Homo sapiens: one gene and its partners. The protein of the gene in region 1 purifies or fractionates together with the protein of each later gene. This does not show direct contact. Each region holds a gene or a part of one and is shown in the gene's direction. Other genes may lie near its edges.

Region 1 (2,611 bases):
TTGTGTGCCTGCGTCTCTCACTTCTTTGAGGTTGGGGAAAGCCTAGTCCAGAAAATGAAAACCCATAGACCAGCCTAACTTCCTTTCAACCAAGTGACGGCCTCCTGGTTCCTCTCAGTTCATCATCAAAATCAGTGTGTACATGTCATACAAGCCAAGAGTGTTCATGTCCTCGTTCCTTTCAAATGAAGGTGATATATACTTTTTCACTGAGTTTTTATTCCTGAAATTCTTTCTTCTGGAGCAGGAAGCAAATGTCCTGGAATCGTAGACTTTTACAGTCAGAAGGGTCATTCACGTTCATCTAGTGCCCCTCTCACTCTGCAGGGATCCTCCTGCCTCTCCTCTGCCCCTGTCCAGTGCCTGGTGGTCCAGCCTGTGATGGGCAGGCCTAGGCTGCCATCCGCAGGCTCTGTAGTTCTGCTTTCTATTGAACCAAGATGTTTCTACGTTGCCTATTGGTCGTGGTTCTGTCCAGAGCAGTTCAGGCTGGGGCTGTTCACTTGCCCCTCCTTGAGGCAGACCTTTAGATATTTTCAGTTTTCATCACATGTCTAACACCACTTCCACCCCACCCCTCACCTCTTAGGCTAAATCCAAGCTAAATCCCCCAATGTCTTTTTTTTTTTTTTTTTTTTGAGACGAGTCTCATCTGTCACCCAGGCTGGAGTGCAATGGCATGGTCTCGGCTCACTGCAACCTCCGCCTCCTGGGTTCAAGCTATTCTGCCTCAGCCTCCCAAGGAGCCAGGACTACAGGTGCATGCCACCACGCCCGGCTAATTTTTGTATTTTTTAGTAGAGACAGGGTTTCACCCAGCCATTGAGACAAGCTGGTTTCAAACTCCTGACCTTGTGGTCCGCCCGCCCCGGCCTCCCAGAGTGCTGGGATTACAGGCGTGAGCCACCGCGCCCATCTCCCCTGCAATGTCTTTAGTTAGACCTTTTCCACCATCATGTCTAACTGGGCTACGGTTTGGGGAAAGTGTCCAAATTAGTCCGTGTTATCCTAAAAGGGGTGTGCCCCGGATTAGCAGGGCCAGGGCTAGGGTGAGACAAATGAGGCACCTGGGGCATACATTTAAGTTGGTGCTTGCTTGCAGGTGCCAAGAGAGTGCTTCCTTGGGTTTACCCCCGTGGTGCCTCCTTTACCTCATTCTGGCCCCAGCCCTGGGGTTAGAGTCGCACCAGTGTGGTCCAAGTGGCATAATTATCTCCCTAAATGCTTGGGCAGCATCAGCTTTCAGTAGCTGTGCCCCATGGGAGGCACATTAAGCTAGTGGCAAGTTGAGACTGCAGACCTCAGCTTAATATCAGTTGTTGCCCAAGACAGATCTCACCCCACATCTTCATGACAGGCCTAACAACAAGGCACTTTGCCCTTAATCCTCTACTACTGCCTGCTCTTCATTTTGGGCCAACTGTACAGCTCATTTTGAGATAGTAGCTGATCATTTTTCTGATCAGTTAACTTTGTCTTATTAAGCAAAATGGAGAATATAATGTTGGGAAATAAGTGTGTTGATTAAAAGAAAGTATCCCCTTCTACCATCTTCCATTTGTGTCTGGGTTGTGCTGGGTAAAGTTCTAGACTTACTAACGCAGACTTCATTTTGGTCCGGTTTCCACAGCATGCCTCGGGCATCAGTGTCCAGGAGTAGCTGTATTTGAGGTTTCCTTCACTCTGGTAGGTTCCTGATTCCTGATGAAAATAACTTGAAAAAAAAATAATTATACTACTGATCCTCTTTTGGGATAATGAAATTGCGAAGGAATGTTGTTGATTATAACTTTTATTTTTTAATGTACAGATGTACTGTCTCTCATTGAGCACTGATAGAATTTATTTTTCTTTCAATAGTTTAAAATCACTTATGTGGAGACACATACTTAAGTGTGTTCAACTCGTTTTCTTCCCACATATCTAGTGTGACCTTTAAAAACCACAACTTTATTTTGGACATTAAATGTGCAATATTCACTACTTATTCATTGTTCCACATTTTTCATACTTGTACAAAGGGTAAGTTTTTATATAATGGTGAGAAACAGGAAGAAATGACAACTGGTTAAGTAAAATTCTGCAAATAAACTAGATTCGAATTTAATTTACACATGGCGGGCCTGTCTCATTGTTTCCTGCAAGTTGGTTGACAGTCTTTTCATACATTAAACCACAATAAGAAAAATTTTATATGAGAAACTTCGTAATGGATAGAATAGTTATTTTGTGACCTTTCACCACGATGGGCGAGGCCTCTAATTTCAAAGAGAAGTTTTAACTTGAGAATTTCAGAATTGGCAGGGACAGGAGGCCACCTGCTGATCTCAGAGAGGTCAGGAGGGTCTGTGATGTGGCCTTGAGCTTGGTAAGAGCAGGGCCATAAAAATTGCACAAATGAGGTGGGAGTGGGGGTGCTTCTGGCAGTGTAACCCCAGCTTGGTCATGGTCTGCTGGGGAAATCCACCTTCAGTGGTGGGATGCCCAGGGAGTTCTCTTTAGTGTTATTTTTCACTCACATTTGTAAGATGCACTTTGAATGGGCCAAGGTGTGGAGAAGGGTCTGCACATTCCATTTGAGAATTAAACCAATTTGGGATTCCTTAGGGAC
Region 2 (3,500 bases), on another chromosome or scaffold:
ACGATCTCGGCCCACCGCAACTTCCGCCTTCCGGGTTCAAGTGATTCTACTGCCTCAGCCTCCTGAGTAGCTGGGATTACAGGCATGCACCACCACGCCCGGCTAATTTTGTATTTTTGGTAGAGACAGGGTTTCTCCATGTTGGTCAGGCTGGTCTTGAACTCCCAACCTCAGGCGACCCGCCCACCTCAGCCTCCCAAAGTGTTGGGATTACAGGCGTGAGCCACTGCGCCCAGCCTAAAAATATTTTTAAATGTTGATTAAGTGTGTACATCTTGGATTATTTTTCTTTAATAATAAGCACTTTTTTAATTATTATTATACTTTAAGTTTTAGGATACATGTGCACAACGTGCAGGTAAGCACTGGTTTTTAAAAGAGATTACACATATTTCAACCACATATGCATTTTTGTTTTGTTTTTAAATTTGGTCAAGTCAGAGAGGGACATTGCGTTCTTGGGTTTTGTTTAAATCAGATACTAATCTTTACTTTGCTATTTATTCACAGTCCTATTGATGTAGAGATTTTTCTGACTTATTCAATTTTTAAATAATTTCTCAACTTAGAATGACTTAATCCAAAGGAAGGGAACTTTTTTCCCTGACACTCAGAGAATCACCTCCACTTTAGGACTAAGTTTGCACTGCCCATTGTCTACATGTGGCTATTGAAATTTAAATCACTTCAGATTAATGAAAATTATAAAGTCAGTTCCTCAGTTTCACTAGCCACATTTCAAGTGTTTGATAATTCTATTTGGGCTACTGAACTGGATGGCGCAGAGATAGAACATTTCCATCATCACAGGAAGTTCTGTTGGACAGCACTGTAAGGGTGAGCTCAGAGGTTTTAAGTAATGTGCACTAATTGAATGATGTGACATTTTAAAAAGGCTCATCTGGAAATATATAACTTTTAGCTCTGAAGCATATCATCACTATATCATGGTTGGACAATGTCTGAAAAACATCTTTTCTTCAGAATTTAATTGGTTATGGTGCTAAGAATTGGGAATCTGGGCAATAAAATGGCCTGGAGGTTTTGCTTTGCCAACTGTTACTTATTTACATGACAATGTGTAGTACCTCAAAAAATATTGTCTCACTTTAAAATTTGAAATTACCATCCTAATTCCAAGGTGATATTATTAAACTTTTGCAGATTTCTAATTAGTTACACATTTATATATCTTCTATATTTAAAATGTTAGAAATGTTTGAATCAGATTTATATTTTCCAAATCCTTGATTTTCATTCACCTCTATTCTCATCTGTGCTATAAATGGCTTCCTGCTGCACTGAGGGATGGCAGAGATTGTGTCTGTCATGTTCATTCTTGTTTCCCCAGTGTTCAGCACTGTTTGTGGCACAAAATGGGTGCTCAATTGATATTTGTTGCTAGGCTCCACAGCCTCTTCCATGGCTTGACTTGTGTGAGTACTGTGTGTACTCTGCCATCAAACACTTTTTCCAAGAGTGGTCTTCAAAGGGGGTTTGTGGGGTTTTGTTTATTGTTTTGCCTTATCTGTTCATAAATTCTCACCCTTAACCAATCTCGTAACAGATACTGGGTCCCAAACTAGAGAACAAAAATTATGGCCAAATAATATCTCTAAAATCTCTGTTTTTAGGGAATAAGTCTGGGAACTTTAAGGGCTACCAAAACCCCAGTTTTATCCTTTTTATTTTGGACACTTTAAAGACATTTGGAAGTCATCATTTAAGCACGGCCAGAGATGTGGCTAACTTCCAGGAGAAATGAAATGGGCTCTTTGAGGGTGGGAGGGAACCATCTTTCTCCAGTGAAGTTTTTGTTGGAAAGATTAGCTGCTTTCTGAAAGCCAATTTCCTTTTTGGAGGAGGCATTATGGAAACCAGGAAAGCATGGGGAGGAGAATATTGGGAAGAGGGAAACTGTATGGAGTTAAAAAGTGCTGCATTTTTGTTTGCATTCAGGCACTTTTCTTAATTTATCAGTGCATTGGTTGCCATGTAAACAGCCAGCTTCTGGCAGGAAAGCAGCTGGACCAGGTGACCTGGCTGTGACAGAGAACACAGATATTGAATCCATGAAACCAAGAGTAATCAGTACAACGATTTTTTTTCTTTTACTTTTTAAAAGTGTTTGTCAATCCTTTAAGTTCTTTTTGTCTGACTGCTGTCATTAAGTAAGAAAAATATGAAATAAATAAGTCTTTGGGTATGCAAAATTGGGAAGATGGACAGGAATTAGTCCCTCTATGCAATTTCCTCTGAATCTTTCATAATTTCTGTATCCTCATCCCTTCACCCTCAACCCTCCAACACCCTCTGTTACCCTGCAGGCAACTAGGACAGCATAGAGAGCGTCTCTTGAACTTGACTTTCTCTTCCAGTGCTTGCCTGCCAATCCCGTGACCCATCCTGGAGAACTTTTATAGTCTTCGACAATGCAATGCATAGCAACCAGTTAATAAGATAAGACAGTGACTGTATAGTGCTCCCCAAAGTGCCATCACCTAAAATAGCCCTTTGGAAAGTGCTCATATAGAACTGAGAATTTTAGTGTAGTGGCAGGCTGGATTTGGGTAGGGTGCCCTTCGGTGGGCCTCCAAATCCTATGGGGAGCTTAATTACTTCATCTTTCTGTAAGGCCAACAGTTCTCAAAATTTGTGGTCTCAGGACAATTTTACACTCTTAAAAACTGAGGGAGATTTCTGGTCTGGACATGTAGTACAGACCTGTTTTTCATTGTTCCTCCCTGCTAAGCACAAGTATAAACCCTGGAAATAATGCAAGAGACAACCAGGGTAGAACTCTGGAAGGTTGTAAGGAGAAGGCAAACTGGTTTGAGACCCAGGGAAAAACAAAGAGCAAGGGTATCCTATGTTTCCCACCCAGCAGAAGAAAGAAACCTAGTCCTGGCCATTCCTGATACCCAACTGAACAACAGAGGGCAGCCCAGGTAAGCTTACTCCTCCCTCAGAGTCCCTCTGACAACATCAGGTAGGCCCAACACCACAGGTAAGGGGGGATCTTCAGAAACCCCACCAACAACAGTGGACAAAAGAAGCATTTGCCTTCTCCCCAGGCCTGAGATGTCCCACTTTCACCTAGAGATATCGAGGTGGGAGGGTAGAACAGACACGAGGCATAAAGTGATGGCAAGCGGCCCAGTCTGGGAAGGCTCTGTCTCAGTGGGTGTATGACTGTCCTCTCCTACCCATAGAGACACCAACAGTGCAGGGCGCCAGTAGAAGTGTCCCACCATACCTACCCCAACTGAGAGGCACCTGGAAGCCTGACCTAGGGAAACCTTTCTGCTCCTTCAGGCGATATGATCTGGGACAAATGTCAGCCTCAGTGATATCCGATAAACCAAACAGAGCAAAACAATACTGAAAATTAAACTGCTGTTAGAACAACAGACCACAAAAGTAAGCCAACACCTGCTTGCATGTGAAGCATAAATAATGTGACTGACTGCAAAAATAAAAAATGTAAATATGAGTTTCCT
Region 3 (3,500 bases), on another chromosome or scaffold:
CTTGTCTCAAAAAAAGAAAAGAAAAGAAAGAAAAAGAAAGTAGGTCTCTTTGCAGAAAGCCTCAGGCCCTGAACTTTTGTGTCATCTTCTCATTACTCAAGTCTAATTCCCTACATCTCACTTTTACACACAGATCATTTTTTTCATGTTTGTTTTGATTGCCCACCCTGGAATTCTATTTCTGCACTACCCTTTAAAAGTGAAAGATCAAATCTAACGCTCTAATGTGGGAAAGCATTCCCTCTATTTCTACAAGCTTATTTACACAAAAAAATAAGCTTGAGACTGATCAAAAGCTGAATTTCTACCAAATAGGAACTTACTTTTTATGCCGTAAATTATCAAGGCCATCTCAAGGCAGAGGTGAGTTTAGCATCTCATGCTTTATGCTCCTTTCTTCTGCACCTACCAGATTTTTATTACATGTGAAATTATATGAACATAAACCCCAGGGAAACATTGAAGATGAGTGTGCCGTCACAAGTGACGAGGGGACAGATGAACAGGGAAGAGAAATGGGGCAGCAGCACTTTAGAGTGACTTACTTCTCTCTTGTTTTCTCCTCCCTGAATCATTTTCTAGAACCAGTATTGTGGCCCCTAAAATTTGGGGCTTAGGTCAGTCAACTTACCAAAGTTCATCTTCCTGGTGATGAAAGGACTTTCATCAAAATCCCAGCTACTTTTTATTCGTTCCCACATTTTGTGGATTAAGAAACTGAGAACCAGAATTTATAGAGATCACTCAATCAATTGGCATATTCCCGGATCACAACAAATTGATAAAATTCTTGAGAACCCTCTTTCTAATACAGATTGACTATAATTTTGTCTTTCATTTTTAGTTCTCTTATTTTGTCTCATGCACTGTGGATTATCTGGTTTACTGCAGTCCTTACCTGAATAGATGTCAGTGTTTTGATCCCATTGTTGTATTCCCCTAAAACACGTCAAATGAAAAACTGGACACTTTAATAGGTTTATTGTTAGCACTCTCTCATGCTGATCAATTCTCAACACATGCAGTTGTAGGATTAGGAAGACAAAATCCTTTAGAAGAAGCTATGAAACCTAATCCTTCTGCATCTGGATCATTTTAAACTACAAGTTGTAAGAGGAATGAGCATCTCTGGATTCTAGTTATCAGTGCAGACCAGATGGAAGGTCTTTATGAAATCTGGTATGAGAAGGAAAGCATTTTATAGCAAGAAGAAAATATTTTGAGAAATAGCTACCAGCAGCAGCAGCTAGCAGTTCTAAAACTCTCAGATCCTCCTAATGACCCCATTAGGGAGGGAGGAAGGGAGCAAGGAAGGAAGGAATGAAGGAAGGAAAGAAGAAAGGAAGGAAGGAAGGAAGGAAGGGAAGGAGGGAAGGAGGGAAGTGTTATAAATATTGGTCAGGGAAAAGTTTTATTATTAATGACAGATTAAATAATTAGCTACTAGGAAAATTCAAGGGGATACATAAAAATGCCATTAGAAAGAATAAGAGAACCCAGTAAGGTGGCTAGCTACAATAGCTTGCCTGGTTAGCGACAATATAATCATAGGGATTTATATTACGCTTGTACACTGTTGGGCAGAAAACATGCCTGAGAGGTATAAAAGATGCTGTTAGCATCCAAGAAAAATGGGAAAGGAAAGCCCACCTCATCTGAGGAAGATGGAGGAAGAAGAACCTACAGAAAAGGATTCCACATTCCAAACTCATCCCTCTGAATTCAGTAATATTTATCCTTATATGATTTCTGACAGTGTAGTTTGTCATTGTAATTAATTCTTTCCTGTAAGTAAACAAGAATTGTATACTTACTTAAGTACCTTACATTTTAAACTTTATTACATAGTCCTAATTTTAATGTTGAACTCTGCCCTAGTCAAGGAAGTATTTGTTACCTAACACAAGAATTTGATATACAGTCATCCATAAACACTATCCTACCATATAGTTCATCATAATTTAACATTCAAAGAAAGAAGCATGATTTCCTCTTTTATTATGCTTTCATTTGAGCCATTTTAACTTTCTTACCATTCTTTCCTTCTGAACCTAATTCAATTCCTTACACAATGCTCTAAAAAATCAAGGATTAAATATGTAACTTAATTTATAATTAGCAAATACATCATTTACAAGATGCATTCATATTGGCAAGCATATTTTATTTCATAGATTGTAAACTGGTAAAACAATGTAATCTCCTCACCCTCTCTGCAATACAGTAAGCCTGTTTCTAAGACCATCAAGGTTTTACTTTATGTCCGAGGCATTGGAGAACCAGACTGTACTGACCCCAGGGTTTGGTGACTTACATATAAATGAAGCATCTTACCAAGAAGGGATGAAAAATGACTTTAGAGGAAGCAAAAGTCTCAAAGCTCACAAGACTTGATTACTTTCAGCTTGGTGACAGAGGCAATGCTCTTGTGATGCAGATGGAGTAATTTCTCCAGCACAAAAGATGTCCAGCCGGGTCCCATTGGCTTTGAGATAATCTCTCACATTGCATTAAGTGTACTGAGTACCCTTTCTCAGACTTATGTACCATTAGCATGCATTTAATTAACAGTTAATGATTACATAGTATTGTTACTATTACCACATAGTCCTGTTATATTAAAATACATGAAATTTGTAGCTATGTTTTGCCTGTTTAGTAAAATGAGTCTGAATCTAAGGGTGAGAGGGTCTACACACAGCCAAGAGGATGGGGTATTAACCCAGGCCTGTGTGAAGATATTTGCATCTCATGGAATGCTCTCCAGAGAACAAACTGACCTACCCTGTGCATGTCAGCTAAGCTCCCGCCAGCTTCCTCAGGGCTTGCTGAATGTACAGTGAGTGCCACAGTGCCAGCGTGGCAGTGAAGCACAGGCCCAACTCTACGGACCTGGGGTCAGAAGGCCTGGGTTAATACCCCATTCTCTTGGCTGTATGAGCTGCATGGTCTGTCATCGTTACAATGGGGACAATAATACATGCCCTGTCTACCTCAGCCTCCTTTCAGGGAAGTTTCTCAAAACAGAATATGCTATTGTGATTCATTGTCACCTGTGATGTCAAACTGCACCTTGTGTTATACTACTAGGGGGTAACACAGCATGGGGCTCAAGCCCAAGCTCTCGAGTCCAGAAAGCCAGGTTCATATCCCAGCTCTGCCATTCATTAACTGCTTTCACATCTCTAAACCTCAGTTTCCTCATTTGTTGGGGCTCACATAACAGTACTATGTCATAGGGCTATTTATGAGGATTAAATGTGTGTATTCATTATTGCTAAATAATAAATTACCCCAAAACCTAATGGCTTAAAGCAACAGATTTTTATTATCTCTATGATCATAGTTCCATGGGTTGGGAATCTGGGTATGGCTTAGCTAGGTCCTCTGGCTCAGGTCTGTCACTCACAGGCTGCAAAGTTTCAGCCGAGACTGCAGACATCTCAAGGCTCAACTGGGGAAAGGTAACGCTTCCAAGCTCGCTCACGTGGCTGTTGACA
Region 4 (3,500 bases), on another chromosome or scaffold:
AACAAACAAAAGAACAATTCCAGGGCACCCCTGTTTCCAGCTCTGTCCACTTTACATTCTCAAAATAAAAGTAGTGTCCCTTTGACAGACACTTTTTCATCACCAGCTCATGGATAAAGCGTCTCTCCTTCCAGACGTCCCCCACGGCCACACCAAGCGGAACCCAAAGAAGGAAGGGTCTGCTTTTCCTCCTGAAGCCATAGGTGGCTGGAGGTGCCCAGCTGGCCGTGGGGAGCGGTGCTGACTCGTGCATAACTGTAGGTTTCACACCTGGGCACGGACCGGCGGGTCAGAAAACTTCTCCCTGAAACTGAAACGAAAACTCCGGGCCATTTTAAAGCCAGCTTGAGGAAGCTGTTTGTAGAGCAGTTGGTAAGAAGTCGCAGGTCTCCTCTGGAGGAAGAAAGAGCAGGGAGGAGCCGTGGGTTGACGCGGGTGTTAAAAGCTGGAAAGACTTTGGAGGCTGCGGGTTGGTCTCCTGGCACTCGGAGTGTGTGTTTTCTGCTGATAGACACTTTGTGGGTGGATGCCCCTGAGATGAGAGGACTCATACCCAGACTAATACTGCCAGGGTGTCAAGAATTCCCATTAAGACCACCCTGGGGGCTGACGGTGGCTTTGTGGTTTCCGTCCACGGGGGACACTGAGTCTTGAGGTTTGTATGACAATGCATTCAACCTGCCCAGGGGAGCCACAGCCCCACTGTGGATCATCTAAGAGTCTCAGCCTCTGACGTGGGCCGAGGTCTCCAATGACCTCCCTGATCCAAGGAAGGACGGGAGGGAGGGAGGGCGGGAAGGAAGGAAGGAAGGAAGGAAGGAGGGAAGAAGAGAAGGAAGGAGAGAGGAGGAAGGAAGAAGAAAGGGGAGAAGACAGGAAAGAAGAAAAGAATGACACAGGGTGAAGAAAGGAGGCAGAGAGGGAGGGAAGGAAGGAGGAGAGGGAAGGAGGAACTAAGGGAGGGAGGGAGGGAGGAGACAGCAGGCCCTGCTAAAGCATCTCCCCCGCCTTGGTCCCCGGGGAGCGGCGCTCAGGAGCCCTCCCGGCAGCCGCCTCTTTACCTGCGCCCCTGACCCGTACACCCTTCCCTCCTTCCCTTGCAGAGCCCGGGCGAGGACCCCTCCAGGATGCAGGTCCCGAACAGCACCGGCCCGGACAACGCGACGCTGCAGATGCTGCGGAACCCGGCGATCGCGGTGGCCCTGCCCGTGGTGTACTCGCTGGTGGCGGCGGTCAGCATCCCGGGCAACCTCTTCTCTCTGTGGGTGCTGTGCCGGCGCATGGGGCCCAGATCCCCGTCGGTCATCTTCATGATCAACCTGAGCGTCACGGACCTGATGCTGGCCAGCGTGTTGCCTTTCCAAATCTACTACCATTGCAACCGCCACCACTGGGTATTCGGGGTGCTGCTTTGCAACGTGGTGACCGTGGCCTTTTACGCAAACATGTATTCCAGCATCCTCACCATGACCTGTATCAGCGTGGAGCGCTTCCTGGGGGTCCTGTACCCGCTCAGCTCCAAGCGCTGGCGCCGCCGTCGTTACGCGGTGGCCGCGTGTGCAGGGACCTGGCTGCTGCTCCTGACCGCCCTGTCCCCGCTGGCGCGCACCGATCTCACCTACCCGGTGCACGCCCTGGGCATCATCACCTGCTTCGACGTCCTCAAGTGGACGATGCTCCCCAGCGTGGCCATGTGGGCCGTGTTCCTCTTCACCATCTTCATCCTGCTGTTCCTCATCCCGTTCGTGATCACCGTGGCTTGTTACACGGCCACCATCCTCAAGCTGTTGCGCACGGAGGAGGCGCACGGCCGGGAGCAGCGGAGGCGCGCGGTGGGCCTGGCCGCGGTGGTCTTGCTGGCCTTTGTCACCTGCTTCGCCCCCAACAACTTCGTGCTCCTGGCGCACATCGTGAGCCGCCTGTTCTACGGCAAGAGCTACTACCACGTGTACAAGCTCACGCTGTGTCTCAGCTGCCTCAACAACTGTCTGGACCCGTTTGTTTATTACTTTGCGTCCCGGGAATTCCAGCTGCGCCTGCGGGAATATTTGGGCTGCCGCCGGGTGCCCAGAGACACCCTGGACACGCGCCGCGAGAGCCTCTTCTCCGCCAGGACCACGTCCGTGCGCTCCGAGGCCGGTGCGCACCCTGAAGGGATGGAGGGAGCCACCAGGCCCGGCCTCCAGAGGCAGGAGAGTGTGTTCTGAGTCCCGGGGGCGCAGCTTGGAGAGCCGGGGGCGCAGCTTGGAGATCCAGGGGCGCATGGAGAGGCCACGGTGCCAGAGGTTCAGGGAGAACAGCTGCGTTGCTCCCAGGCACTGCAGAGGCCCGGTGGGGAAGGGTCTCCAGGCTTTATTCCTCCCAGGCACTGCAGAGGCACCGGTGAGGAAGGGTCTCCAGGCTTCACTCAGGGTAGAGAAACAAGCAAAGCCCAGCAGCGCACAGGGTGCTTGTTATCCTGCAGAGGGTGCCTCTGCCTCTCTGTGTCAGGGGACAGCTTGTGTCACCACGCCCGGCTAATTTTTGTATTTTTTTTAGTAGAGCTGGGCTGTCACCCCCGAGCTCCTTAGACACTCCTCACACCTGTCCATACCCGAGGGTGGATATTCAACCAGCCCCACCGCCTACCCGACTCGGTTTCTGGATATCCTCCGTGGGCGAACTGCGAGCCCCATTCCCAGCTCTTCTCCCTGCTGACATCGTCCCTTAGTTGTGGTTCTGGCCTTCTCCATTCTCCTCCAGGGGTTCTGGTCTCCGTAGCCCGGTGCACGCCGAAATTTCTGTTTATTTCACTCAGGGGCACTGTGGTTGCTGTGGTTGGAATTCTTCTTTCAGAGGAGCGCCTGGGGCTCCTGCAAGTCAGCTACTCTCCGTGCCCACTTCCCCCCACACACACACCCCACCCTGTTGCTGACCAAGGTGATTTTTGGCACATTTGTTCTGGCCTGGCTTGGTGGGACCCCACCCCTATTCTGCTTCTGTGAGTCCCTGATAGAGAAGGAGGTCCCATCAGGCCCCTGGAACACACTCAGGCTTCCCTGACTCAGGACAAGGACCACGGGAGGCCCAGGTGCGGAAAGGAGGCTCCGTGAGATGGGGTCCAGCCCATCCCAACACAAGGGTGCAGCTTGATTCGGGAGTTCCCCACCTCCTGCCCATTCTCCGCGTCCTTTTACCCCATGGAGAGCCTCAGCCATGGCAAGTCCATCTGGAGTCCAGGAAGCAGGCAACTGGCCTGACCCATGAGACCGTTTGGAGACCAAGCAGCAGATGCAGGTGTGGACCCCAGGAACCTACAGGGGTGTCAGCCGCTGAGCCCCCTCCCTGCTGTGTGGGTGGTGAGCAGGCTGGGTCTTTGTCTGTCTTCTTCTACACGGCATGTGCCTGCACCAGCCCCAACACCTGAGCTGGTTTAGCGCAAAGAAGAGCTCTGACTCTCCAGGGGTGCTGGGACATCACGTGGAATTGGATCCCAGGCTCTCTTGGGCGAGAAAGACCAT

The links. Proteins that work in one complex are often made in the same cells at the same time.
Region 2: the proteins of EPG5 (region 1) and VSIG1 purify together in Homo sapiens (co-immunoprecipitation; one large-scale study listed by IntAct). This does not show direct contact.
Region 3: the proteins of EPG5 (region 1) and HTR1E purify together in Homo sapiens (co-immunoprecipitation; one large-scale study listed by IntAct). This does not show direct contact.
Region 4: the proteins of EPG5 (region 1) and P2RY8 purify together in Homo sapiens (co-immunoprecipitation; one large-scale study listed by IntAct). This does not show direct contact.

What each region holds. Positions count from the first base shown.
Region 1 is NC_000018.10:45,847,109-45,849,719, reverse strand, and holds the end of EPG5 (ectopic P granules protein 5 homolog), read left to right. Parts: 3' UTR 1-2,111; downstream 2,112-2,611. UniProt on the Homo sapiens protein: Involved in autophagy. May play a role in a late step of autophagy, such as clearance of autophagosomal cargo.
Region 2 is NC_000023.11:108,048,065-108,051,564, forward strand, and holds part of VSIG1 (V-set and immunoglobulin domain-containing protein 1 isoform 2 precursor), read left to right. Parts: intron 1-3,500.
Region 3 is NC_000006.12:86,940,528-86,944,027, forward strand, and holds part of HTR1E (5-hydroxytryptamine receptor 1E), read left to right. Parts: intron 1-3,500. UniProt on the Homo sapiens protein: G-protein coupled receptor for 5-hydroxytryptamine (serotonin). Also functions as a receptor for various alkaloids and psychoactive substances.
Region 4 is NC_000023.11:1,464,186-1,467,685, reverse strand, and holds part of P2RY8 (S-geranylgeranyl-glutathione receptor P2RY8), read left to right. Parts: intron 1-467; exon of another isoform or gene 468-655; intron 656-1,103; 5' UTR 1,104-1,127; coding exon 1,128-2,207; 3' UTR 2,208-3,500. UniProt on the Homo sapiens protein: G protein-coupled receptor for S-geranylgeranyl-glutathione (GGG), an endogenous metabolite present in lymphoid tissues.